5 linked regions of the Homo sapiens genome follow. The protein of the gene in region 3 interacts with the protein of the main gene of each other region in a pairwise test. Each region holds a gene or a part of one and is shown on either strand. Other genes may lie near its edges. The genes, in order: EGR2, NEK3, BPGM, ATF6 and EHD2.

Evidence for each region.
Region 1: the proteins of BPGM (region 3) and EGR2 interact in a two-hybrid assay, tested with the Homo sapiens proteins (one large-scale study listed by BioGRID and IntAct).
Region 2: the proteins of BPGM (region 3) and NEK3 interact in a two-hybrid assay, tested with the Homo sapiens proteins (one large-scale study listed by BioGRID and IntAct).
Region 4: the proteins of BPGM (region 3) and ATF6 interact in a two-hybrid assay, tested with the Homo sapiens proteins (one large-scale study listed by BioGRID and IntAct).
Region 5: the proteins of BPGM (region 3) and EHD2 interact in a two-hybrid assay, tested with the Homo sapiens proteins (one large-scale study listed by BioGRID and IntAct).

The regions. Positions count from the first base shown.
Region 1 is NC_000010.11:62,813,567-62,817,686, forward strand, and holds the start of EGR2 (E3 SUMO-protein ligase EGR2), read right to left. Parts: upstream 2,801-4,120; 5' UTR 2,464-2,800; coding exon 2,295-2,463; intron 903-2,294; coding exon 1-902. UniProt on the Homo sapiens protein: Sequence-specific DNA-binding transcription factor.
Region 2 is NC_000013.11:52,137,896-52,144,039, forward strand, and holds part of NEK3 (serine/threonine-protein kinase Nek3), read right to left. Parts: intron 6,093-6,144; coding exon 6,020-6,092; intron 3,175-6,019; coding exon 3,125-3,174; intron 1-3,124.
Region 3 is NC_000007.14:134,648,815-134,654,958, reverse strand, and holds part of BPGM (bisphosphoglycerate mutase), read right to left. Parts: intron 1-6,144. UniProt on the Homo sapiens protein: Plays a major role in regulating hemoglobin oxygen affinity by controlling the levels of its allosteric effector 2,3-bisphosphoglycerate (2,3-BPG). Also exhibits mutase (EC 5.4.2.11) activity.
Region 4 is NC_000001.11:161,849,566-161,853,319, reverse strand, and holds part of ATF6 (cyclic AMP-dependent transcription factor ATF-6 alpha), read right to left. Parts: intron 1,656-3,754; coding exon of another isoform or gene 1,599-1,655; coding exon 1,485-1,598; intron 97-1,484; coding exon 1-96.
Region 5 is NC_000019.10:47,710,680-47,717,435, reverse strand, and holds the start of EHD2 (EH domain-containing protein 2), read right to left. Parts: upstream 4,015-6,756; 5' UTR 3,898-4,014; intron 879-3,897; 5' UTR 824-878; coding exon 420-823; intron 1-419. UniProt on the Homo sapiens protein: ATP- and membrane-binding protein that controls membrane reorganization/tubulation upon ATP hydrolysis. Plays a role in membrane trafficking between the plasma membrane and endosomes. Important for the internalization of GLUT4.

The sequences.
Region 1 (4,120 bases), on a different chromosome or scaffold from region 3:
CAGCTCGTCAGAGCGGGAGAACCGCCGGTCGCAGCCTTCTGCTGGGCACGGGTAGGGCCTCTCGTGCACCGGCGTCTTGCTGGGTCTGTTGGGGTACTTGCGAGGCCTCAGAATGGGCCGCAGTGGCAGGTGGTGTGGGTTATAGGCGGCGGCGGCGGCGGCTGCTGCTGCTGCTGAGCTGCTACCAGGCAGCCGGGGTCCCTCGCTGCCTCCACTGGCCCCTGGTCCGGTCACCCCAGCACTGGGGCCCCCCAGGGTAAAGTTACGGATTGTAGAGAGTGGAGTGAGTGGAGGGGGCACCCGCAGGGTGTCCAGTGGGCAGGGAAAGGGCTTACGGTCTGGGCCAGCTGTACCATGTAGGTCTCTCTGGCACTGAGATGGAAAGAATCCAGGATAGTCTGGGATCATTGGGAAGAGACCTGGGTCCGTGGCTGGCTTGGGGGATGGATAGGAAGGAGGTGGTGGGTAGGCCAGAGAGGAAGAGGTGGAGGTGGTGGCTGCTGACAGGAACGCAGAAGGGTCCTGGTAGAGGTCTCCTGCACAGCCAGAATAAGGAGGAGGAGGCGGTGGCGGAGAGTACAGGTGGTCCAGGTCAGGCTGGGTCTGGGACATGGTGCACACACCCAGGGGTCCTGTGGCCAGTGGGTTGGGGGAGGCAGAGGTGACGCTGGATGAGGCTGTGGTTGAAGCTGGGGAAGTGACCCCTTGCAAGATGCCTGCACTCACAATATTGATTATGCCTTCTGGGTAGCAGCTGGCACCAGGGTACTGAGGGTCAATGGAGAACTTGCCCATGTAAGTGAAGGTCTGGTTTCTAGGTGCAGAGACGGGAGCAAAGCTGCTGGGATATGGGAGATCCAACGACCTCTTCTCTCCAGTCATGTCAATGTTGATCATGCCATCTGGGGAGGGGAAAGGCAGAATGGAGGTGGAACAATGAAAATACAGCCAGGACTCCCTTCTCACCCCCGCTCACATAGGTCCATTTCCAAGGCCGAGAGTCTCAGCACTGTAGAGCTGTGGCAAAGTCCAAAAGGTGGGGAAATTGAGGCCCACAGACTGTAAGAAGAGGCCAGCCCAACTGTGGCAACCCATTGACAGTATGGAACTCAAGAACTACCTCCAAAAAAGCAGAATGAGCTTTTCCCAACTCCCCTCCACCCCCAGCCATCTGTGGCTCTAGTCCCCAATAAAAAACACCCAATAATAGCAACAACAATATTTTAAAAAGCCTCATCCGCCCGGAGCTTTTCTCCCTCTTTTTTGCCTGGGGGTTCCACGGCTGAGGCACCAAGACAAACACCACCCAAGAATCGACCTATCCCAGTCAGTGCCGTGATGGTGCCAAACCGAGAGGAGAGCCCGAGAAGGGGGTGGGTGATTTCCCGGCTGCTCCCCATCCCCGGCGCCTTGTGCCTTTTTCTCCCTCCCTCTCCCGCTGCGCTTCAGCCGAGGGCTGCTGGAGCGAATGGGGGATGTAGAGGAAGGAGTCCGTAGGTTTCCGTGCCCTCCCAATCTTCTCCGCCTTTCCCGACAGCCGCGCGTCCCCGCCTCAGCCCAAGGCCAGTGGCCCGGCCTCGAGGAAGGCGCGGGGGCCGCGAGAGACGACTTTCCACAGCATCGCCAAGGAAACCGGCGTCGCCGGTGCCCCCGCGGGCCTCCCTCGGCAGTCCGGGGGCTGCTTCCCGCCGTTGCGCGCCCTCCTCCACCACCCACTCGCTGCCTCCGCCGGCCGGAGCCCCCGCCTTACTAACCCCCTCAACTTCGCGGGCGGCGGGCAGGTGGGGGCGCGCCTCCAGGCCGCAAGAAGGGAGCGCTCCGAGATTTTCCCGGGGTCGGCTCTGCCCAGGAGGGAGCTACCGACGCTTTCCCCTGGCGCTTCTCCGCCGCTCGGCTCTCCAGGCGCGCAGCTCTCCCCGAGAGCCCCGAACTTTACCGTCACTTTGCCCCTGCCCCGGGAGAGGGGAGGTCGAAGTGCTGCCGGCCAGAGGGCCTACGCAAGCCTCGAAACCCGGGGGGACGCCTCTTCCACCCCCATCCCTGCGCTCGCCCGGGGCTGGGCGCGCCGGGGCGCACGCACGCCGGTTTGCTGGCGACCTGGCGCATCTGCCCGCGCGCCCTGGTCTCAGCTGTCGCAGGTTCCTCCTGCACCCACTTCCAGTCTTCAAAGCCAGTGCAGTCAGCACCGTCCACCTGGAGCCCCAATCCTCTCCTGCGATTCCCGCACACCCACTGCACCCCATCCACCACCTCCGGGCCGCGCAGGTCCGGGCCTGCGAAGACACGCGGCTTACCTCCGGCCACTCCGTTCATCTGGTCAAAGGGGCCTCCCAGTTCGGCATTGGGAAAGATGGTCACCGACGTGGCGGCGAGGTCCTCCACCGGGTAGATGTTGTCAGACAGCTGGTGCACAAAACCACTGAGAGTTACTGGGATTTTGTCTACGGCCTTGGCGGTCATCATTTGCTCCTCGCACAACCTGGAGACCCAACTCCCTCGCTACCTGGAGTGTCAGAAAAGCCGTTTTGGAGAGGGGTTGGACTGAGCCTGGGATGGTATCTCCTTTTGCCCTCCACACTTAAAAACAACCACCACACACACCAAGAAAAAAAAATCAACAGAAATAAAAGTAGCAAACAAGTTGCTGTTTTTTAAGAAATAAGAAAAATGTCTATTTGCCACTGACTCTCTCCTGTCTGTGTTCCGGCTGCTGGGAAGCCAGGAGTTGCTGGTGTAGTGTTATTATAACAGTCAGTGAGTCCCCTCGCCGAGCTATTAATCAATTGCTCCTCGCTCAGTTAGACGGAAAGTGTTGCTCTAAGTATTTATGGGCAGGTCTTCAATACCCGTGACGTCGCTGCCCATATATGGACTGAGGAACAGGGCTGGGCCAGGCGGCTTTTGCCGTCACATGGCTGATTTGCATACACGGGCTCGGCCGCGCGGACTCCGCCGGGCTCGCGACTTCCAGCTCGCAGGCGGCGGGGATCGCTGGGGTCCCGGGCGCGCGGCCCTAGCTGCAGCCTGGGTCCGGGGCGCAGGGATCGCGGGGGAGAGGGCGCGCCATGGACCCAGTCACAGCCACAGCAGGAGAGCGAGCTGCTCCAGGCTGCGGCTCAGCCTCCCGGGGCGGGGAGGAATTCCGGTTCTCTGGGACTTTCCAAAAAAGGCGAAGATCCGGTGCCGGCGGCTCCGCCTCCCTAGCCCTTGTTTGGGAGCCATTCCGGAAAATTAAACTTCGGAAAGAAACCGAGCGGAGCCGAGACACTACAGTCAAACCCCTACTCACTTTCTTGGCAGCTCAAAACCGCAAGCAAAAGGAGGCAGCGAAGAAAAAAAAAGCTACATGCATTCACGGAAGCTGACTGCTTTTTTCTGAATTACTTGGTGGAAAGAAGTGGCTGGTGATAAGAGTGAATGCGTATTGCTTTTTTGGAAAGTCTGTTCTATTTATACAGGAGCGAAAACGGAACAGGTTTGGGTTGTTTGTTTGTTTAAGTATTTTGGGCACCTTGGGACTGGGAGGGTAAACCCTAGGAGGAGCAGAATTACTGTGGGGAGCTTCGAGAGAAATCCTCAGCCGGAGACACCCTCCTTCCTCTGCCCGCGCGCTCCCCGCCCCCCTTCAGCTGCTGCGCGGAGCGGGCGCCCTTCCCGGCGCGTCTGGGCGGTCGGCTGCGTGGGGGCGTCCAGATGGAAGCTTGGACACTCACCCTGCCCCTCCAGACACACATACACACACACTCACACTCGCTCCACTTCCGCTACACACTCCCGCCCCCGCTGCCCTCTTCACACACCCGCTCACACACCTTACACTACACACCTCCCTGTTGACTGCGTCCGCGCGCCGTCGTTGCCAGCAGTGTCCCGGCGGCAGAGCGGGCTCCGGGCTCGCTGGACAGGAGGTTCTATGAAGACACTGGCCTAACCTTCACTACCGGTCCCTGCAGCCACAGAATCCCCCTGACCCCCATAGCCCAGGATCCAGGACCGCGCCCTGCCCGCACCCGAGCCAGAATACACGTACTAGAATAAATATTTTCTCTCCCTCCCCAAAAAACACCTCGGTGAGCCCAGCGCGGTCCTCAGTGACGGCCGAAAGCATCTCTAATCACTT
Region 2 (6,144 bases), on a different chromosome or scaffold from region 3:
TGTTTACATGTTGCACCCTTTTCATTTTGCGAACACATATTGCTGTGTTCACTACAGGTGGTATCAAACTATAGCGTGTGGGCACAGATCATCTGCAAAGGGCACAAGGAAACATTTTAGGGGATGGAAATTCTTTTCTTTTTGAGACAGAGTCTTGCTGTGTTGCCCAGGCTGGAGTGCAGAGGTGCGATCATAGCTCACTGCCCTCCTCAACTTCCCAGGCTCAGGCGATCCTCCCGCCTCAGCTTCCCAGTAGCTGGGACTACAGGCATGTGCCACCATGCCCACCTAAAATTTTTAATTTTTTGTAGAGATGGGGTCTCATTGTGTTGCCCAGGCTTGACGCAAACTCCTGGCCTCAATCAATGCTCCTGCCTCTGCCTCCCAGAGTGTTGGTATTACAGGCGTAAGCCACTCTGCCCCACCTGGAAGTTCTATATGATGACTGTGGCAGGGGTTATATGGATATTTAAATACCATCACCAAAATTTATCAAATTGTGCATAAAAATGGGTAAATTTTGTGGCATGTAAATTATACCTCAAAAACTGGAAAAAACAGACATTACAATGAAAAGAAAAAAAGTATAGAGGTCTGTATTCCATTTGTAGCAACATAATGGTGGGGTGTTGTTATTTATTTAGAACCTATGGTTCATTCAAAAAATTTAAAAGTTTAATTACTAGTACATTCCATGAAGAGAGCAATTTGTTGTCATACAACATCTTTTCCTTTTTGAATTGAAAGGTTAGGCCAGGTGAAGTGGCTCACACCTATAAATCCCAGCACTTTAGGAGGCCAAGGTGGGAGGATCACTTAAGCCCAAGAGTTCAACACCAGCCTGGGCAACATAGTGAGACCTCATCTCTATAAAAAAGTTAAAAAATTATCCGGGCATGGTGGCATGCACCTGTAGTTCCAGCTACTCAAGAGGCTGAGGTGGGAAGATCCCTTGAGCCCAGGAGGTTGAGTCTGCAGTGAGTGGTGTTTACGCCACTGCACTCCAGCCTAGACAACAGAGAGAGAGAGAGAGAGAAGGAGAGAAGGAAAGAAAGAAAGGTTGACTGAAATACTGAAAAAAACATCAATAGTACACAATTTGCTAAGGGGGGTGTGACAACACTGAAACATGGATCGGCTGTTAATATCCACAGCTTTAGGGAAGCTTCAGTGTAAAAGAATGTCACAGTTGCCCAGGGCTAGATGAACAGGACCCCGAATGCCAGCCTGAAAATTGATTCTTGGGATAACAAGGAGGTGCTACAAAGCATTGAACAGAAAAATGTTAAGATCTAAATAGTAATCTAAATGTTACTCAGCTTCAGCACAGCAATAAAAAGGAATGAAGTTTTGACACACAGAAGAACTTAAAAACATTATGTAAGTGAAAGAGGCCAGACATAAAAGGACAAATATTGTATGATTCCACTTACATGAAATACTTAGAATAGGCAATTTCACACAAAGATTTGAGCAGCTACCAGGGGCTACCAGATTTGAGATTAGAGGCTGCCAGGGGCTGCAGTGGTGGAAGAGGGAGTTATTGCTTAACAGGTACAGAGTTTCTGTTTGGGATGATAAAAAGTTTTGGAAATAGACAGTAGTGATGGTTGCACAGTATTATGAATGTAATTAACACCACTCAATTGTACACTCAGAATTGGCTAAAATGGCATATTTTATGTTATGTATATTCTACCACCATAAAAAAACAAAAAGCAGGCCAGGTGTGGTGGCTCATGCCTGTAATCCTAGCACTTTGGGAGGCCAAGACAGGCAGATCACATGAGGTCAGGAGTTCAAGACCAGCCTGGCCAACATAGCAAAACCCCATCTCTACAAAAAGACAAAAAATTAGCTGGGCACGGTGGCTCGTGCCTGTGGTCCCAGCTAACCAGGAGGCTGAGGCATGAGAATTGCTTGAACCCGGGAGGCAGAGGTTGCAGTGAGCCGTGATCACGCCACTGCACTCCAGCCTGGGTGGCAGAGGGAGATTCTGTTTCAAAATAAACGAACCAAAAAGCAGCCAGGCCCAATGGCTCACACCTATAATCCCAGCACTTTAAGAGGCCGAGGCGGGAGGATCACTTGAACACAGGGGTTTGAGACCAGCCCAGGTAACATAGCAAAATCCCATCTCTTTAAAAAAATGCCAAAAAAAAAAAAAAAAAAAGCTAGGCATGGTGGCACATGCCTGTAGTCCCAGATACTTGGGAGGCTGAGGTGGGAGGATCACTTGAGCCCAGGTGTTCGAAGATGCAGTGAGCCATGTTCACGTCATTGCACTCCAGCTTGGATGCCAAAGTGAGACCCTATCTCAAAAAAAAAAAAAAAAAAAAGCCAGGATAACACAAGATTTTCATGACTGAAAGCAAGACAAAATTCTTCCACATCTGTATTGAAACCACTATCATCAATAATCAAAAATGGAGGCCGGGCACGGTGGCTCACGCCTGTAATCCCAGCACTTTGGGAGGCTGAGATGGGTGCATCACAAGGTGAGGAGATCGAGACCATCCTGGCTAAAACAGTGAAACCCTGTCTCTACTAAAAATACAAAAAATTAGCTGGGCATGGTAGCGGGTGCCTGCAGTCCCAGCTACTCAGGAGACTGAGGCAGAAGAATGGCATGAATCCAGGAGGCGGGGCTTGCAGTGAGCCAAGATGGTGCCACTGCACTCCAGCCTGGGTGACAGAGCAAGACTCCATCTCAAATAATAATAATAATAAATGGAAAAATAAACAATAAATGGCGACCTAAAGTGGCTCAGCTGACAGTGCAGATGAACAGCTACCAGTTATTTCCCATGCCAAAAAATGAAGGAAGAAGTACTTAACTAGAGGGACCAGGTCACAGTCTTCCAAATATCTTATGGCACTTAAGGGTAACCCGGTATCCAGGAGGTAGATATTTCATAAACGTATTTTTTTTCTTTTGAGATGAAGTCTCGCTCTTGTCGCCCAGGCTGGAGTGCAATGGCGCAATCTAGGCTCACTGCAACCTCCGCCTCCAGGTTCACTTGATTCTCCTGCCTCAACCTCCCGAGTAGCTGGGATTACAGGCTTGCACCACCACGCCCGGCCACCGCGCCCGGCCTCATAAAAGTAATTTTAAAGCACTTACCACTGTGCTTGCTTCATTTCCCAAAGCTATCCTGATTCTGCTGGGGTTTGCTTTTAAAAGAGAGAGAGAAGGTAGAAAGATAAAACACATAAAGGATCATCCTATTAAGTTCCTAATATGATTTTCATACAGCTGGAGAAGTGAGTGAGGTTATTAAAGTCAAAGAGCCAAAGCTCTCTGATATCCTGAATGGGAATAACAAGCTTTAATCACCTAATAATACATCTCAGTTATTGAAAGAGGCTATTTCCACTGTTTCATTCCTAAAGTTAAAATCCAAAAGTTAAAAGACATCTCTATTCACTTATGCCAACCCATTTAAGCACTAAGAGGTAACATACTCTGCATACTTAAGGTTATTTTCCCCTTTGGTGCATGCTAGCTAGTGGAGTCCGTGCTTTTCCTGTTAGCTATCACAGCTGGTGGAATAAGTATCCCTAAAAAGAAGTGAGCTGTTTATTAACTCAGAAGAGACCAGCAGGAGGAGTCAGGAGAGAACCCTGGCAATTGATCCCTTTGGTAGGAATGGCTATGCCTCATAGTGGTTCATGTCCCTTATTCATTCAACGTTTTAAAAAATTGCTATTGAACATGGATGATGATGCACTGAGAATACAAGAGTGAGCAAATCAGATGCAATCCCTGCCCTGTTCCATTTCATTATTCTGGTCTGTCTACAGATTAAACTGGAGATGCCATCAGACATATGGTCCCAGTCTGGTGGCATTTCTCTAACTACTTATTCCTCTTTTTAGAAACTGTAACACTATACTTTTTTGGCCGGGTACGGTGGCTCATCCCTGTAATCCCAGCACTTTGAGAGGCCAAGGCTGGTGGATCACCTGAGGTCAGGAGTTTGAGACCAGCCTGCTCAACATGGTGAAACCCTGTCTCTACTAAAAAAAAAAAAAAAAAAAATTAGCCAGGTATGGTGGCGCATGCCTGTAATCCCAGCCACTCTGGAGGCTGAGGCATGAGAATTGCTTGAACCCAGGAGGCAGAGGTTGCAGTGAGTTGAGACTGCACCACTGCAGTCCAGCCTGGGAGACACAGTGAGACTCTGTCTCAAAAATAAAATAAAATAAAGTTAATTTAAAAAAAACCCTACATTCTTCCAAACTACCTTGAAATTTTTTTGTCTCTTTTTTTCTTGCCCAGCATTTTAAAACTAATTTCCCACTACCTTGAGATGTGAACAAAAGCCACAGAATAACACCTATGCTAAAGCAAACTGGTAAAACAAAGGTAACTGGCTATCTCTTTTTTTTTTTTTTGGAGACGGAGTCTCGCTCTGTTGCCCAGGCTGGAGTGCAGTGGCGCAATCTCGGCTCACTGCAACCTCCACCTCCCAGGTTCACGCCATTCTCCTGCCTCAGCCTTCTGAGTAGCTGGGATTACAGGCACCTGCCACCACGCCCAGCTAATTTTTTGTATTTTTAGTAGAGACGGGGTTTCACCATGTTCGCCAGGATGGTCTTGATCTCCTGACCTCATGATCTACCCGCCTCGGCTTCCCTAAGTGCTGGGATTACAGGCGTAAGCCACTGCGCCCAGCCGCTATCTCTTAACTAATGGAGAAAAGGTTGAGTTATAAGACTGAAGGGTTTGCATCCTTCCAAAAACAACACTTAAAAGTTAAGTTTAAGAAAACAATACAGTTCTCAAAATGTTTCTTTTGTAGTATCTGCATATAACATTATGATAAAGAGCACCAGGCAATAGAGGTTTTGCAACATGTCCCAGCAGTGAATGATCTCCTACACTTCTTAATTCTTCTCCTGTATTCCATTCATAGCTACTATCTCTGTTGGATTTCTTCAGAAGGAAATCACTGATGAGAAATGAAAGCGAATAAAAATAGCTTTGAAAAAATTCAGAGATGACAACTTCCAAAGAGACAATAAATTAAATTTGATATTTTCTCAGGATAGGCTATAGATGTATGAAAATTTCATGTAGCTATTATGTGGATGATTCACAGCTTTGGAAAAGGCTCTGGTTTTTGTCTTTAATTAGGATATTTTACTGTTTAAGAGCAGATCCACCCAGCACTTTGGGAGGCCGAGGTGGGTGGATCACCTGAGGTCAGGAGTTCGAGACCAGCCTGATCAACATGGTGAAACCCCATCTCTACTAAATTCAAAAAATTAGCCAGGCATGGTGGCACATGCCTGTAATCCTAGCTACTTGGGAGGCTGAGGCAAGAGAATCACTTGAACCTGGGGGGCAGAGGTTGCAGTGAGCCGAGATTGTGCCATTGCACTCCAGCCTAGGCAACAAGAGTGAAGCTCCATTTCAAAAAAAAAAAACAAGCAGTTTTAGGTTCACAGCAAAACTGAGTGGTGAATACGGAGAGTCCCATATACCACCTGTCCCCACACACATACCACCTCCCCAATACTAACATGCCACACCATTACAGTCGATAAACCTACTCCGACGCATCACTACCACCCATCACCCAGAGTCCACAGTTTACATTAGAAAAGCTTCTCTTTTTAAAAGTCTGTTTATACGATGGTTCTTCAGAAACTTGGGATACATTTTCCTACAAGATTAGTGCTATATTTTCATGGATAGATTCTTAGGTCAGGCAACAGAAGAAGCCTTCTACCTGACCTACACAACAAGCCAGAGAAAATATGGAACTAATAATGACAGCATAATCTTTCCGTCACTAAAATATCCAAAACTAGGCTTTTTTAAATCCCAATTTTTTCAGGGATCAAAAAGTATTCAGTACAGAATTACATCTAAAGTAACAAAAAGAAAAGGTTCATTTGAGGAGTATCTCCGATAATCATTTCTAATAACTTAAAAATTATACATTTCTTTTCTGTTACAGTATATTTTTAAAAGAGCACTTAACAAAAAATACTCTGTCAAAATTCTTACTTTTTTTTCTTGGTGTGTTATGCTTCGAATTTTTTATTTCTTCTAATACTTCCTCACCATATTCCATGATGATCTGAAATTTAAAGTTGAGAATTTAGAGATGTGAAAACATACTTTTCTATAGA
Region 3 (6,144 bases):
GGAAACATCTTTTACACAGCTGTGTATCTTATCCTCCCTCCCCTTCCTCTTGTCCATTTACCTTCCCTTCTAGCCATTCCTTTTTTAGTTTCCTGACACCAAACTTGTGCCTTACCCACTCTACTGAAATGGTGCCTCAAAAGACTACAGGTTAGTTACTTCTTACTAAGTGGAGATCATCTTCTCTCATGACTTCTCTAAAACAGACTACTTCCATCAAGAAAAAAAACCCACTAAGATTTTGGTGTAGCATTTCCTCCAGCTCTTCCACGGTTACATCTTGGTCTTGGGTGTCTGCATTTTCTTACCTACCTGTAAGAGTACTATGAAGATGATCATATTAGTCACAGTAGCCAACATTCACAGAGTGCTCACCTGTGAATGTTAGTTCAATGTTACTTGGCACTGTTTGAATCCTCAACCACCATTCCATGGAGTGGCTACTATGATTACTCCCATTTCACAGATGAAGAAACAGGAGGAAAGGTTAACTTGCCTAAGGTAACAGAGGCTGTAAATGGCAGAGCTGGAATTTAGTCTCGAGAAGTCTGTATCTATGCCCTGAACCATTTTGCTACACTGTCACATTGAAACCTGAGGCTCAGTCTTCAGTTCTTGGAAACCCTTTTCTCACTGCTTTAATCACATTAAAATGGATGACTCATAAATTGAAAGCCCCAAATACTCAGTCGCCCTAGCCTGACCAATTAATTCATTCTTCAAACATTTTGCAGATCCCATTTAGGCATGGCCCAATGCTAGGCCTATGAGGAATATGTAATCCAACAAGAATTATGTCTTCATCTTCAGTACGTGTGTGTGTGTGTGTGTACCTAAAACTCAAAGTAATTCACACCATGAGAAAGCACTTCATTAGTAAAAGAGAGGTGGGATGGGAGAGAATATTTCTGAGTAAGGCTTCGTGGACACAGTATTTTTTAAGCTGGATTTGGAAAGGCAAGGTTTAGATTTACAGAAAAAAGTAAAGGAATTCCAATCTAGGGGAACAGTGAGTGAAGGCAAAGGAACAGGTACATATGGAAAATGGCGAGCCCATTCAAACTGGTTGGAGTATAGCTAGAGTAACCATACATCCTGATTTGCCTAATAGGCAAAAAATATTCTTTCCATAAATGCCACCATAAAATTGAAGTTATGGTTCAAGATTAGCATTCTTTTGGCAAGGTCAAGACAGAGAGGGTAGTTAGGAGAAAGAGGCACATGCATCATTATTACAGAACAGTATTGTCTTAGGCCTGTTTCCCCAACATAATTACTACTAGGGCCCCTTTCACACTTAAGTGTCCCATTTGGAAAATTATATGGCCACTGTAAGTATAGGGTATAATAAGGAAGCAGGAGAAGACTAGCCTAGAAAGATAAGAAAAAATAGTGACACAAAAAAAGCCTGTGCCAAAGCATGTAGGTTTTTCTATACATATTGGGACATCATTAAAAGTTTAGTAGCATGCATTTTAGCAGGATCAGGCAGCACTTACTTACAGAAATAGACAGGAAAACCCAGGAGTATGAACACTAGCTGAGAGGTTTTTGCAATAATTCTGGTAACACAGAATAAAGACTTGGACCAGGACAATGGCCGTTTAAGTGAGATGAAGGAGATAAACGTGAAAGACACTATAGCTTAGCTCAGATGTTAGCAACTTTTTCTGTAAACCACCAAATAGCAAATTTTTTAGGCTTTCTAGGCTATACTGGTCTCTGCCATAATTAGGTACAATTGTATAATTCTGCCATTGCAGCTGAAAGCCACCATACATAATATATAAGTGAATAAATCTGTTTCAATAAAACTTCAGGTATGGACACTGAAATTAGAATTTCATATAATTTTCATGCACATGAAATATTAATTTATTTCAACCGTTTTACATGTAAAACCCATGCATAGTTTGTGGGCTGTTCAAAAACAGGTAGTAGACATATGATCCAGCAAGCCCGCCACTGGGTATACATCCAAAAGAAAGCAAATAAGTATACTGAAGAGATACCTGCACTCCATGTTTGTTGCAGCACTATTCACAATAGCCAAGATATGGAAGCAATCTAAGTGCCCATCAACAGATGAACAGATAAAGAAAATTTGGCACATATATACAATGGAATATCATTCAACCATAAAAAGAACGAAACCCTGTCATTCACAACAACATGGATGGAACTGGAGAGCCTAAGGTTAGGTGAAATAAGTCAGGCATGGAAAGACAAATTTCACATGTTTTCACTCATATGTGGGAGCTAAAAATTTTGAAAATTGAATGTATTGCAATAGCAGAATTATGGTTGCCAGAGGCAGGGAAAGGTAACAGGAGCGAGGGGGTTAAAGTGAGGATGGTTAACAGGTACAAAACTATAGTTAGAATAAATAAGATCAGTATTCAGTAGCACAATAGGGTGATAATAATTTATTGCATTTTAAAATAACTAAAATAATGGAATTAGAATGTTCCCAACACACAAAAAATAAATGCATGAGGTAATAGACAAATGCATGAGGTAAATCAATTACTCTGATTTGATCATTACATATTGTATATCTGTACCAAAACATCACATATACCTATAAATATATACAACTATTATGCATCCATAATTTAAAATTAAAAATGTAAATTTTTTAAAAAACGGTATAGGCCAGAAGCCCTCAATATGCCGATATTGGCCTAGCTGGATCCCACACTTAGATCTACTAATGACATCAGCATTTTTAACCTTTAAGCATCCCGTCATAGAATAATCCCAACATTATGAAATCACTAGATTTTATTCTTGGCCAGAACGGCAAGTACCATGAGTAATGGAATCCCATTCATAATTGTTTTTATTCCTCACAGAAGGCAATACTGAAGACATTTAAATCAGTCTGAGTACTTGACTTTTGCTTAACTAAATTATTTAGGAATAGGTTCAAGATTGAACTATAGGGGAAAACTATAGGATTCATCCTGTTAATCTCCTTCAAAAATATCATCTGTCATTTTGACACACTTTACCCCATTAGACATCTTCATAAATTATCCCATAGTGCCTCACACTTCAGGGGAATGTATACTTGCTCAGGAGTAGGTGCTATGTAATTGCTTTGACAATAAACAAATCAAAGAACATACTTTGCAGGTGACTTATAACTTTCAAAGATCTTTCACTATAAATGTATAGAAATTCCATCTAAGTTAGCTATAAAGCAAAGAATATTCTTTCCATAATGCCACCATAAAATTGAAACATAAAATTATGATTCAAGATTAGCATTCTTTTTGGCAAGACAGGGACTGTAGATAGGGGAGTGATGTACTTGCAAGGCACTGCATTTACTAAGGTTACCCCTCTTAATATTTTTGAGATCCCTAAGTACTTTCAACAAATGTAGCATGATCATCTGCTGCTGCTTCCTACTCCTTCATTAAACTATATAATTCCACATATGAAATTATGTGAAATATAATTTCACATTATATTTCTCCCATAACTGAGGCTCCTCTGTTATAAGTACTCCCCATAACTGAGGCTCATCCTGTCTTCCAAACTGACACTCCTGGGACTTTGCTTCCTCCCTTCCTCACGTGTTTGAAAGTTAATAATGCCTAAGACCCTAGTGGTACAACTCACGGACAAATAGGACAAACTACAGGGTAAAGTCCAACTTAAAAACCTAGTTTTTCTTGTATTTCCAACGTTTAAGCAAGAAATTTGATCAGCAATATAATGTTGAAGTTATATAAAATAAGACAAATAGAACCAGAGTCACTTAGATTCAAAGCTCACATTTAAATATTAGTCAGTTGCTACCCTAGACACTCAGATGACGTTTTCCTTGGTCCAAACCCCTTATTGTGTGGCTTTGAGCAACTTTTAACCCCCACTGCAAGAGGAATCTAACTTTATAGAAGATGGGCTGGCTATTATTTGAGGACAGAGAAAAAGAACCATGTCTTTAACAAAGTAAAAAGGAACAGGTCTCAAGGGAAATGAAATCTGGGGCTCAGTTCCTTAAGGCTTTTAATGTTTCTTTTGAGACGCAGTCTCACTCTGTCGCCCAGGCTGGAGTGCAGTGGCGTGATCTCGGCTCGCTGCAAGCTCCGCCTCCCAGGTTCGTGCCATTGTCCTGCTTCAGCCTCCTGAGTAGCGGGGACCACAGGTGACCGTCACCACGCCCGGCTAATTTTTTTTGTTATCTTTAGTAGAGACAGGGTTTCACCATGTTAGCCAGGATGGTCTTGATCTCCTGACCTCGTGATCTGCCCGCCTCGGCCTCCCAAAGTGCTGGGATTACAGGCGTGAGCCACCGTGCTCGGCCAAGGCTTTTAATGTCTTAACAAACTATGCCTTCCCCCAAATCAAGTTCACTATTAGAAGTTCAAACACAACTGTACCTAAAAGTGTTCCATGGTCTATTACTTTTCCTAAGGCTTTGTAGAAACTTTTTCATCTGTACTTGCAGTTATAAGAACATCATTTTACAGGAGCAAATGTTACCACTTACAGGTGTTTTCCAGACACTAAAACCCTCTCATTCCCCAATCTTACATCTACTAATATTTCCTACTGATTGCTTGTTACAAGAATAACCAACCATACCAGGCAGATCCCTACTCATGGCGAAGAGATATACATATGTAATGAGATGTGCATTTGCTCAGGGCATGTTGCATGTTCCAGCCTGCATGGCATCACCACTGTGGACAACACCCACTCATGACGGACCCCTCCTTCCTATCTCTGGTCATTGTCTTCCCCAGGGTAGTAGCTTTTATCAACACAAACTGTGTCCACCAAATTCCAAAAGTCTAAAGTAAAAACAACCTAGATATGAGCCCAGCTCTGCTACTGACTGACAATGTGATCTTAACTTATTTAAATTCTTTGAACCTCAGGTTCCATATCTATAAAGATGAGGATCATGAAACTACTGTTCTCAGGGGGCTATCAGAAAGATTAAATGAGATTATGGTGAAGCACTCTACCAAAAAGTGAGAGGTAGAATGGAGCAGACTTTGACTAACTCATAAATAATGGCACAGATCTCAGGCCCGTCAAAGCAATCCTACCTTGCCGATGATATGAGCAGAAGCGAAAGCTGGGAATAAAGTAAAATGAAGGGAGGAATTAGAGGAGAAATGCTTAAATTAGGTGGTAGAAGGAGGAATGCAATCAAATATTGTGGGATGGAAGAAGGTGATGGTAAGATACAGTCTCAGAAGCTTACCAAGTACTAATATTCTGCAATCCAAATGCTTTAATGAAGTGGTTAACATTTAATTTATATTTTACAAAGTATGTTTTCCTCATATTTGTGGCTAAGTTTCAGCAGAAGGGTTTTGTTATTAAGTAATACTTTTTGTCCTGCCACCCATATAAACATCTTTCATATCAGATTTCATTCCAAGGATGTTTCAAGAAACCATTCGGTTCAAACACGTTTGTGACCTCTGTTCTTCAGGCCCCAGACACACAAAGATGAAGGCCAGGTGAATTTAGGTGCATCAATCATTACTTAAAATGTGCCTCTTAATCTCAACCAACCACAGCAGGCAAAAGAGGAAGAAAGACTAAAAGCTCTACCCAAACACTAACAGTAGTTGCTTCTAAGTGACATTTTTCTGCCACATTATACTTCGGTATGCTCCAAATTTTCTACAATAATCTGGTTTGGTTTAAATAGGAACACAAAAGAGTATATCCTTGTAATGGGGACAAAAATAGGAAGATCAATAAGACCTAGTATTTGCTAGCACAACAGGGTGACTATAGTAAAAAAAAAAACAATTTAATTGTAAATTTTCAAATAACTAAAAGAGTACAATTGGATTGTTTGAAACATAAAGGATAAATGCTTTTGGTGACAGCTACCCTATGTACTCTGATGTGATTATGCATTGCATGCCTATGTCAAAATATCTCATGTAACCCATAAATATATACACCTACTAGGTACCCACAAAAATTAAAAATTAAAAAACAAGAATATATCCTTGAAGCTGGGAACTTTTACTTGCTAATAGATGGTACAGAATTTACTGCAATGAGATTCTGCTTGTATACTAATAATTTTTACTTTAAAACAGACTTTAAATACAGAGTTTATATCTCAGATATAATTTAATGCAACATCTGCTTTCTAAA
Region 4 (3,754 bases), on a different chromosome or scaffold from region 3:
AGAATACGGGTTTTCTGTTGATTATTTGTCATTCTTCTTGACTTGGTCCTTTCTACTTCATGTCTATGAACCCATCCTCGAAGTTCATGATTTAACCTATAAAATATAGTTTAATTAATTAAACATAGAAATTAATTAAACATAGAAATGGATGTTTCACCCTGTGGGTGGAAATGAATCTAATCATTTGTAGGTTCCAAAGAGCATTCCAAGTGCCTGATGACTCAATATTGCTTTTTGATTTGAAAAAGTTGACACTTAACGTTGTTTTTAATAAGACATGCATTTTTACATGGTAAACCTGTCAACCATGCATTCAAACTTCAAAGAAAACTACAGCTAAATACCTCCCAAATATAAACACTGGATGCTAAGGTTTTTCCACCAAAAAAAGTATTTCCTTGCCAGGCACAGTGGCTTACACCTGTAATCCTAGCACTTTGGGAGGCTGGGGTGGGAAGACTGCTTGAGCCCAGGAGTTTGAGATCAGCCTGCGCAACACAGTGAGACCCTGTCTCTACAGAAAATTTTTTTAAAAAATTAACTGGGCATGGTGGCATGTGCCTGTAGTCCCAGCTACTCAGGAGGCGAAGGCAAGAGGATCACTTGAGCCTGGGAGTTTGGGGAAGCGGTGAGCTATGATCCAGCCACTGCACACCAGCCTGAGCAACAGAGCAAGACCCTGTCTAAAAATAAAATAAAATAAAACAAAACAAAATAAAAAGTATTTCCTATTTCTGTTCTTGGGCTATATAAACACAAACATTTGAGACACATTGTAGAGAACTTAACAAGTCATAGGACCCCTAACAACAAATAGATGCATTAAAACCTCTTGAAAATCATGCTCTTTTGGGAGAAGAAAAAGAATGAACTCAATTGCCTGGGGTAAAAAAAAATTCAAATTTTTCAACACACGAAATAAAAGCATAGCTCATATATAACTTCCCTTATTTTGCTTACTTTTTACAGCAGCTGTGAAGATGTTAAACTATGTTTAACTGTAGTTGATTACTACATATCACAAAAAATCTGAGGTAGTTTTTGAGGTTTTAAGGGTAAGGTCCAAAATCACAGGAAAAAAAAATTCAAGGGAAAAATTGATAAAGAAGTGTGTACTAACGGTAAAGTATCTCCAGAATCACATACCCACAAATTATTATCTTCCTAATTGGAAGAAAAAGGTACTTTCTGCTATGAATGTTACCAACTGTAAGCCTAACACCATGAAATTTTAATATTAATTTCATTCTGTAGTTTTTAAAGAAGACATATTTAAGTAAGCAACTATCACATAAAATAGACCCATCACCATCTCCATGAGGTTGGTGGAGAAACTGGACAACTAATATGCCTACAGTTATCCACAAATAATTCAGAGATTCTCTCAGTCACTTAGTGAACTTGACCAATTACTTGTCTAGGTTCCAAAACTAAACATGGGAACCAACTCAGATGTTTCTGCAATAATCTACAACACTCACCTGAGAGACTCTGTTGTGTTAATTAGGGGCTGACAAGGAGGTGGAGGAATGTAAAGCAATGGTTCTTCAGTTAGCACCATCAGGGCTTTGTCATTTGAAACAGAATGATCATATCTGAAACATGGATGCACAAAATTTGTTTCCTTGTATCTTAAATTCCTAAGAAGTTTGCTATAAGAAAATCATCATTAGTGTTAACTTTTCATGGAAACAAAAATATAGTAAACAGAATATACTGCAAGATAAAGTATAAAATACAAAACCTTATTTTACATGAAATGTCATTTTCTGATTTTCTACAGAGACAGGATGGTAATTCACATTTGTCTAATCACCATTTATTGAGCAATTAATTTGGAATAAGCGATACAATAACACATGGTTCATCATATCTTCAATGAGCTTAAGACATGCACAATGCTGCTGGTACAGAGGTAGTAACACAGTAACGGGGTAATTGAGGCGAAAATCAAGTGGTATTATGTGACCAGACTAAAGTTTAGGGGTCATTCACAATTCTATGATAATAAAATTGGATAGTATCTGTAAAACAGGTAGGGGTGTGTGTGTGTGTGTGTGTGTGTGTGTGTGTGTGTGTGTGTTAAGGATAGGGTGAGACACAATTCTATGATAAAACTGGATAGTATCTGTAAAACAGGTAGGGGTGTGTGTGTGTGTGTGTGTGTGTGTGTGTATGTTAAGGATAGGGTGAGACATAAAATGCTTGGCAGGAGAAAAGTGAAAGAGTTGAAAAGCCGAATATAAACTATGGGATCATGGAAGAATGTGAATCACTAATAAAACAACAGAGTGACTGACATTAACTAGTTACTCCATTTGCTTCAAAAATATATACTTTCCTAGCCATCGCACTGATGTAGATCATGTGAATTCATATCCAAGGTGTGACGTAGGGAGCAAAACTGGAGTTGAAAGTTAGAATTTGAGATGGGGATATTACTGTTATTTATGCTCTTCAGTCTGCAATCTTAATCTCTCTCACTAACAAAGCTTGCATCTCTCTTGAATTTCTTTATATAGGATGATCTGGATTTAGAAAACTAGATATGCTAATATCTCAAAAGAAAACATGTAAACATATAAAACTGAACATAGTGAGACTCACACTTTTCATTTATTCATTCAACAAATACTTGCTGCATACCAACTGTGCACCAGGTATTGTGCTAGGTGCTGAGAATCCAGTAGGGAATGAGAGAATCAAAGTTTCTGTCCCCAAAGACCTTAATGGGGAAGATGGACCAAATAGAAGAAAATAAATGCATAAAATAATCCGAACTCTAGTAAGTGCTATGAAAGAAACAAACAAATGGTTGAAATGGAAAAGCAATGGTAGTATATACTTTAGATAAAATGGTCCGAGAAGGAGATGGTAGTTACATCAAGGCCTAAATGATGAGAAGACGCCGCCTCTATAGAAACTGGGGTAAGAGCATTCTAGGCATAAAAGAGGCAGGTGGGGGAAAGGTGGGCTCAAAGAACTTTAAAAAGACCACTGGCTGAAGAGTTGCAAGCAAGTGGGGAGGTAGAGAGGGAACAGGATGAGGCTGGAAAGGAATCATAATAAGGTCATAATAAAAGACCAGGTCATAATAAGGAATTACTAAATGTAATAAGAAGTCATAAAAGTGTTTCAAATAAAGAAGTGATATATTTCAATTTACATTCATACCTTGCCATGGTACCAAAAATGGACTCAATGGAGGCAAAAGGGGAAGCTGAGACACTGATTAGGAAAGAGCTATGGCAATCCTGGCAAGAACTGATGATGGCATGGACTAGGTTTGTGGCAGCAGAGACGGAGAGGAGTGGACCAATTCAAGACAATTTTGGGGAAGAGTATCAACAACACTTGTTGAAAGACAGGAATCAGGATTTCTGGCTTAAGCAATGGAAAGGAAAAAACACAGTTGTAGAAAATTGGTTGGAAGTAAAACAGGGAGAGGAACTGAGTTCCACAGTGCACATGTTAAGTTTGAAATGTTAAAACAGAGATGTCAAAGAGACTATTGGATATGTGACTCTGGAGACTCAGAAGAGAAGTCTGGACTGAAAACATAAATTTGAGAGTCATCAGGACATATAGATATGAACTGTGCATGAAATTATAGATGAGTCACCTAGGCAGAAAGAAAATAAAAAAAGTTTACAGTTCCAAACCTTGAGAGTTGGGTAAAAAAAGAGCCCACAAAGATTACTGTGAAGCAGCAGCCAATAAAAAAAGGAAACTAAAAAACCATAGTAACACA
Region 5 (6,756 bases), on a different chromosome or scaffold from region 3:
GCTGAGAAGGAGGGAAACACAGTCAGGGAGGGGACAGAGAAGGGGGACAGCAAGATGCACCCCTGGGACAGAAAGACGTGCCCCCAGGGCCGGGCGCAGTGGCTCACTCGTGTAATCCCAACACTTTGGGAGGCTGAGGCAGGTGGATCACTTGAGGCCAGGAGTTCAAGACCAGCCAGGCCAACATGGTGAAACCCCAACTGTACCTAATAATACAAAAACTCGCTTGGCGTGGTGGTGGGTGTCTGTAATCCCAGCTACTCAGGTGGCTGAGGCAGGAGAATTGCTTGAACCCAGGAGGTGGAGGTTGCCATGAGCTGAGATCGCACCACTGCACTCCAGCCTGGGCGAAAAGAGCGGAAACTCTGTCTTAACAAAAAGAAAAAGAAAGATGCGCCCTGGGCTCGCGGCTGGCACACCTGTTGAGGAAGGTGTTTCCGAAAGGGTTGAGTTTGCGGAAGGGCTTGTCCGGGTCCACGACGAGGGCGTTGCCGGGCACGGTGCCCTCAGTGTCCCCGTGCATGACGGCCACAAAGCAGTCGGTGGTGGGCTCAGGCCCCACGCGGGAGCCGGGCACCTCCTGCTCCAGCAGGTACTGGATGAAGCTGGTCTTGCCCGTGCTGTACTGGCCGGCCACCAGCACCATGGGCTTGCCGTCGAAGTCTGCGTCCTCCAGGGCCGGCGAGTGGAAGGCCCCAAAGCGGTAGTGCTCCTCCAGCGGCAGCAGCTTCGTGCGGTACAGCTCCTTGAGGGCCGAGGTCACCGTGCGGATGGCCTCGGGCTGCTGGCCCCGTGCCCCGCCCCGCTTCAGCCAGCTGAACATGGTGGCTGCACACCGCTCACGGGGTTCACGGAGAGACGTGCAGATGGAGAGCTGCCTGTGGGAGGGGGAGAGGGCATGAGCATAGGCGGCCCAGCCAAGGAGGAAGAAAGGGGTCTGAGTGTAGACTGTCTGGGTGACAGGATGGGTGGAGGAGGAGGAGGAGCACAGATATTTGTGGTCACAAATATGTGGTCACAGAGCATGGATGGCAGGTGGCAGGAGGAAGAATGGAATTGGGCCAGGCGCGATGGCTCACACCTGTAATCCTAGTATTTTGGGAGGCTGAGGTAGGAGGATTGCTTGAGGTCAGTAGTTGAAGACCAGCCTGGGTAAAATAGTGAGACCCCCATCTCTACAAAAAAAATAATTAGCTGGGCATGGTGGTGCATGCCTGTAGTCCTAGCACTTTGGGAGGCTGAGGCAGGAGGATTGCTTGAGCTCAGGAGTTCAAGGCTGCAGGCTGCAGTGAGCTATGATCATGCCGCTGCACTCCAGCCTGGGCTACAGAGTAAGACCCCATCTCAAAAAAAAAAAAAAAAAAAAAGGCCAGGCACAGTGGCTCATGCCTGTAATCCCAGCACTTCGGGAGGCTGAGGCAGGTGGACCACCTGAGGTCAGGAGTTTGAGACCAGCCTGACCAATATGGTGCAATCCTGTCTCTACTAAACATACAAAAAATTAGCCAGGCCTGGTGGTGGCCACCTGTAGTCCCAGCTACTTGGGAGGCTGAGACAGGAGAATCACTTGAACCCAGGAGGCAGAGGTTGCAGTGAGCCGAGATCCCGCCACTGCACTTGACAGAGCGACACTCCATTTCAAAAAAAATAGGGAGATCGTAGCGAACCAGCTGAAGGAGGAGAAAGATTAATGGTGACATGGTTGAAGAAGGGGGATTGATGGTGGTAGTGGAAGACCAAGAGATGGACAAGGCGAAGGATGCAGAAGCTGCCTGGAAGAAACGGATTCCTTAATCGCTTCATTCATTTCTTCCTCCCTTCTCCCTTCCATCATTTGACACCTTTTCACTGAAATCACTCACTCCATGCTTCAGGCACTGTGGACCCAGAAATGAGCCAGAGATCATCCCCTACCCACCCAGGGCCCCCAGTAAGGACCCAGACACATGCCAGACATCCAGAGGAGGGCATGAGAAACAGACCACAGCACCAGTAAGACTCAGGGCAGGGTTGACTTTTGAGCTGCTCCATGAAGAGCAGGCAAGACAAGGGGATTTAGGCAGAGAGGACGGTGCGTGCAAAGGTCTGGGGATGTGAAAGGTCCTGGTGTACTGGGAGCCATGAAACATCTGGGTAGGTGGCCAGACACAGGGGCACAAAGAGGAGGGGTGAGAAATGGAGCTGAGAAGGTTGCCTGGGTGCACCCAGGTCATGAGGGCTGTTGGGTGTTAACAAGAAAAATAATGCAACATTTATGATCACTGCATGCCAGGTACTGTACTAACTCACTTAACATTTATAACCCTGTAAAGTAGGTCTATTATCATCCCTGCTTTGCTTTGCTTTTCTTTCTTTTTATTTATTTATTTATTTATTTATTTATTTATTTATTTATTTGGAGATGGAGTCTCACTCTGTAGCCCAAGCTGGAGTGCAGTGATACAATCTCAGCTCACTGCAGCCTTCACCTCTGGGGCTCAAGGGATTCTCCTGCCTCAGCCTCCCAAGTAGTTGGGACTAGAGGCATGCACCACCACACCCAGTTAATTTTTTTTTGTATTTTTAGTAGAGATGGGTTTCACCATGTTGCCCTGGGTGGTCTCGAACTCCTGAGCTCAGGTGATCCACCCACCTCAGCCTCCCAAATTGTTGGGATTACAGGTGTGTGCCACCATGCCGGCTCATCTCTGCTTTTTTAACAAGGCAAAGGAGGCTCAGGAAGACAGCAATAAATTACCCAAGATCACTTAGCTGGAAAATGCTCAAGCTGGGACTCAAACACAGGCAGCCTGACCTCAGAGGTTGCAATCCTATTATAGGTCTAAAGATCTGAGTTAGGGAGGTTAGCCATGACCAACCCAGGAGCAATGAGCACCTCCAGCACCCAGACTGTGTTCTCTATCTTCCCTTACTAGCCTTTTATTCACCGTAGGATCTGTAGTGATGTCCCCTCTTTCATTCCCGATATCAGCCACAGGTGTGGGTATTTGCTTTTTTTAAAAAAGAAAAACAAAAACGATTGCTCCCCGTTGATGCTTATGATTTTACTGATCTTTTCAAAGAATCAACTTTTGGTGAGATGGGAGTCTCTAAATACCATTCCCCACTAAAAGAACCTGGGACTCCTTAGAGAAATGGTGGATTCCAGGGCGGGGGCAGGGAAGAACAAGTGAGCCTGGGTCAGAAGGTGAGGAAGTGCTCAAAGGCCGATAGGGCATGTTACAGGGACAGAGGACCCAGCTTGCAGGGGTGCCCAGTGGCCAAACATGGGGCAATTTGAGCATCAAAATAACTGCAAATCAAATATGCTAAAATCCATAAAATCATGAGACTTAAAAGGGGTGGCCAGGGAGTAGGGGAGATAAAAGCAAAAGGAGTTCGTAAAGGAGTGGCAAGAATGGAAAAGAGAGGCAGGATCTGGGATGTGGGCAGAGGGAGAGGGCTCTGGGCGGTGTCCCAGGCAGGGAGGGCCCTGAGAGAGAGCTGGGGAGAATGCTATCAGCGGTGGCCGATGGAGCTGGTGAGGCAGGAGAGGGGCTCTTGAGTGGCTGGAGGGACCAAGTTAGCTGATATGGATGAGGGCGTGGAGGGAGACCCTGCAGAGAGGATCTCTTCTAGCCCAGGGGATAGGGAGGGGTGTTGGGGGAGGATGGAGGAGACTGGGGGAGTGTGAGAGGCTGCGAAAGACTGGAGGAAGAGTGGGAGGAAGAGTGGGAGGAGTGGGAAGAGTGGGGGACATGGTTACAGACTGGGGGGACTGGTGAAGACTGGGGGACACCTGGGGAGACCGTTACAGACTGGGGACAGGGTGGCAGGGAGCAGGGGTCAGGCATGAGGAACCAGGGCAGGCTTGGGCGGGGGTCGGGAGGCGACAGCTGCGGTGCTGGGAGCACTCACCGACGGGGCGCGCTGGCGGCTGCAGCGGGCTGGGCAGGCTGGGAGAGGGTGGGGTCCCGCGAGGATCCGAAGCGCCCGCGGAGCGGCCTGTGCTCGCGGTCCCGTCCGGAGCCGTCTGAGCCGGGTGGGGCCCGGAGCGGGGAGGACGGGAGGGAGGACAGGAGGGAGGGGCGGGACGAGGCGCCCCCCTCAAAACCGGGCGCCCGGCCTCTGGCGCCCCCTTGTGGGGAGTGGGGAAGACGCCTTAGCACGGCGGGCGAGAGCTCCAGCGTCCAGCCTGGGGTTCGAATTCCGCCTCCACCTCCAGCGTTGGGCTGCTCCCCAGTCTGTCTCTCTTCTTAACACGGGAATCACAACAGCAGCAGCAATAATAGTAACAATAACAGGTCGGGCGCCCTGGCTCACGCCTGTAACCCTAACACTTTGGAAGGCCAGGGTGGGAAGATTGCTTGAGGCCAGGAGTCCAAGACCAGCCTGGACAATATAGCGAGACCCCATGTCTATTAAAAATAATAATAAATAATAAAATAATTTAGCCAGGCACAGGGGTGCACACCTGTGATCCCAGCAACTTGGAAAGCTGAGGTGGGAGGATAGCTTGAACCCAGGAGGTCAAGGCTGCAGTGAGCTATGATTGTGCCACTGCACTCCAGCCTGGGTGACAGAGCGAGACCTCACCTCTAAAAAAAATAATAGGACGGGGCGCGGTGGCTCACGCCTGTAATCCCAGCACTTTGGGAGGCCGAGGCGGGTGGATCACTTGAGGTCAGGAGTTCAAGACCAGCCTGGCCAACATGGTGCAAACCCATCTCTACTAAAAATACAAAAAAATTAGCTGGGCGTGGTGGCGGGCGCCTGTAGTCCCAGCTATTTGGGAAGCTGAGGCAGGAGAATCACTTAAACACAGGGGAGGTGGAGCTTGCAGTGATTGCGCCACTGCACTCCAGCCTGGGGACAGAGCAAGACTCCATCTCAAAAATAAATAAATAAACAAAAATTAGCTGGATGCAGGCACGCACCTGTAGTCCTAGCTACTTGGGAGGCTGAGGCTCCCAAGTTCCAGAATCACTGGAACCCAGGAGGCAGAGGTTGCAGTGAGCCAAGATCACGCCACTGCACTCCAGCCTGGGTGACAGAGTGAGAATCCATCGCAAATAAATAAGTAAATATAATATTAATATTAAAACTTAAGGGAGTTGATGAAACTTCTCAGCTGACAACCCTCCCTGGCTCTCCTCTCTCTCAGAGTAAAAGCCGAAGTCCACACCAAGGCCCACAAAGCCTAGCATGATCCACCTACATCTCCCCTGTCCCCCTTCCTCAGGCGGCTCCAACCGCCGTGGCCTCCTCACCATTCCTCAGACACACCCCCAACCCTCCAAGTTCATGGCCTTTGCACTTGCTGACTCCTCTCCATGGAGTACTTTCCCCATAGGGATCTGAATGCCTCACTCTCTCCCCTCCTTCAGGTCCCTGCTCAAATGTCACCTCCTCAGAGAAGTCCTCCAGGATCACCCTGGCTAAGGTAGAACCCACTCTCTACCTCTTATCACTGCCCTATTTTTCTCCACAGCCCTCCCAACCACTCTGCATATTCCACATTTCTCTGCCTAAGGGACTGTCTTTGCCCTGAGAACATGAGCCCCGTGAGGGCTTTGCACAATGCCCAACTCCCTGCAGGGGCTCAGTAAACATTTGTAGAAACAATCCCTAATGTTGACTGAGCCATTCCTATGTGCAGGCACCGCTCTGAGCTCTTTGCATGCATGTATTAGCTCATCGAACCCTCATCATATCTCCAAGAAACAGGAGTTTTGGGGTTTTGGTTTTTGTTTTTGTTTTTGAGACAGTCTTACTCTATCGCCCAGGCTGGAGTGCAGTGGCACGATCTCAGCTCACTGCAACCTCCGCCTCCTGGGTTCAAACTATTCTCCTCCCTCAATCTCCCCAGTAGCTGGGATTACAGGTGCATGCCACCACACTTGGCTAATTTTGTTTTGTTTTGTTTTTTTGAGTCAGAGTCTCGCTCTGTCGCACAGGCTGGAGTGCAGTGGCACGATCTCGGCTCACTGCAAGCTCCGCCTCCCGGGTTCACGCCATTCTCCTGCCCCAGCCTCCCGAGTAGCTGGGATTACGGCGCCCACCACCATTCCCGGCTAATTTTTTGTATTTTTAGTACAGACAGGGTTTCACCATGTTAGCCAAGATGGTCTCGATCTCCTGACCTCGTGATCTGCCCGCCTCGGCCTCCCAAAGTGCTGGGATTATAGGCATGAGCCACTGCGCCCGGCCTAATTTTGTGTTTTTAGCAGACAAGGGGTTTCACCATGTTGGCCTGGCTGGTCTCGAACTTCTGACGTCAAGTGATTTACCCACCTCAGCTTCCCAAAGTGCTGGGATTATAGGCATGAGCCACCATGCCCAACTGAATTGTATGCTTTAAATGGGTGAATTGCATGGCTTCTGAATTATATCTCAATAAAACTGATATTATATATTATATTATTATAATTATAACATTTTATTTATTTTTTCTATTTTTTTTGGAGGTAGACTCTTGCTCTGTCACCCAGGCTGGAGTGCAGTGGCGCGATCTTGGCTCACTGCAACCTCTGCCTCCCGGGCTCAAGCGATTCTCGTGCCTCAGCCTCTCGAGTAGCTGGGATTACAGGCATGCACCAGCAGGCCCAGCCAATAACATGTTACTATAATATTACTATTATATATATAATATATAAAAGGTCTGGAGCTTAATGATAACTTACGTTAATGTTGTTACTGCTAGGAGACAGGCCCTGTTCCAAAAGCATCACCTAAATCATCTCCCTTCCCCCAGGAGGGCAAGTCCTGTTATTATTG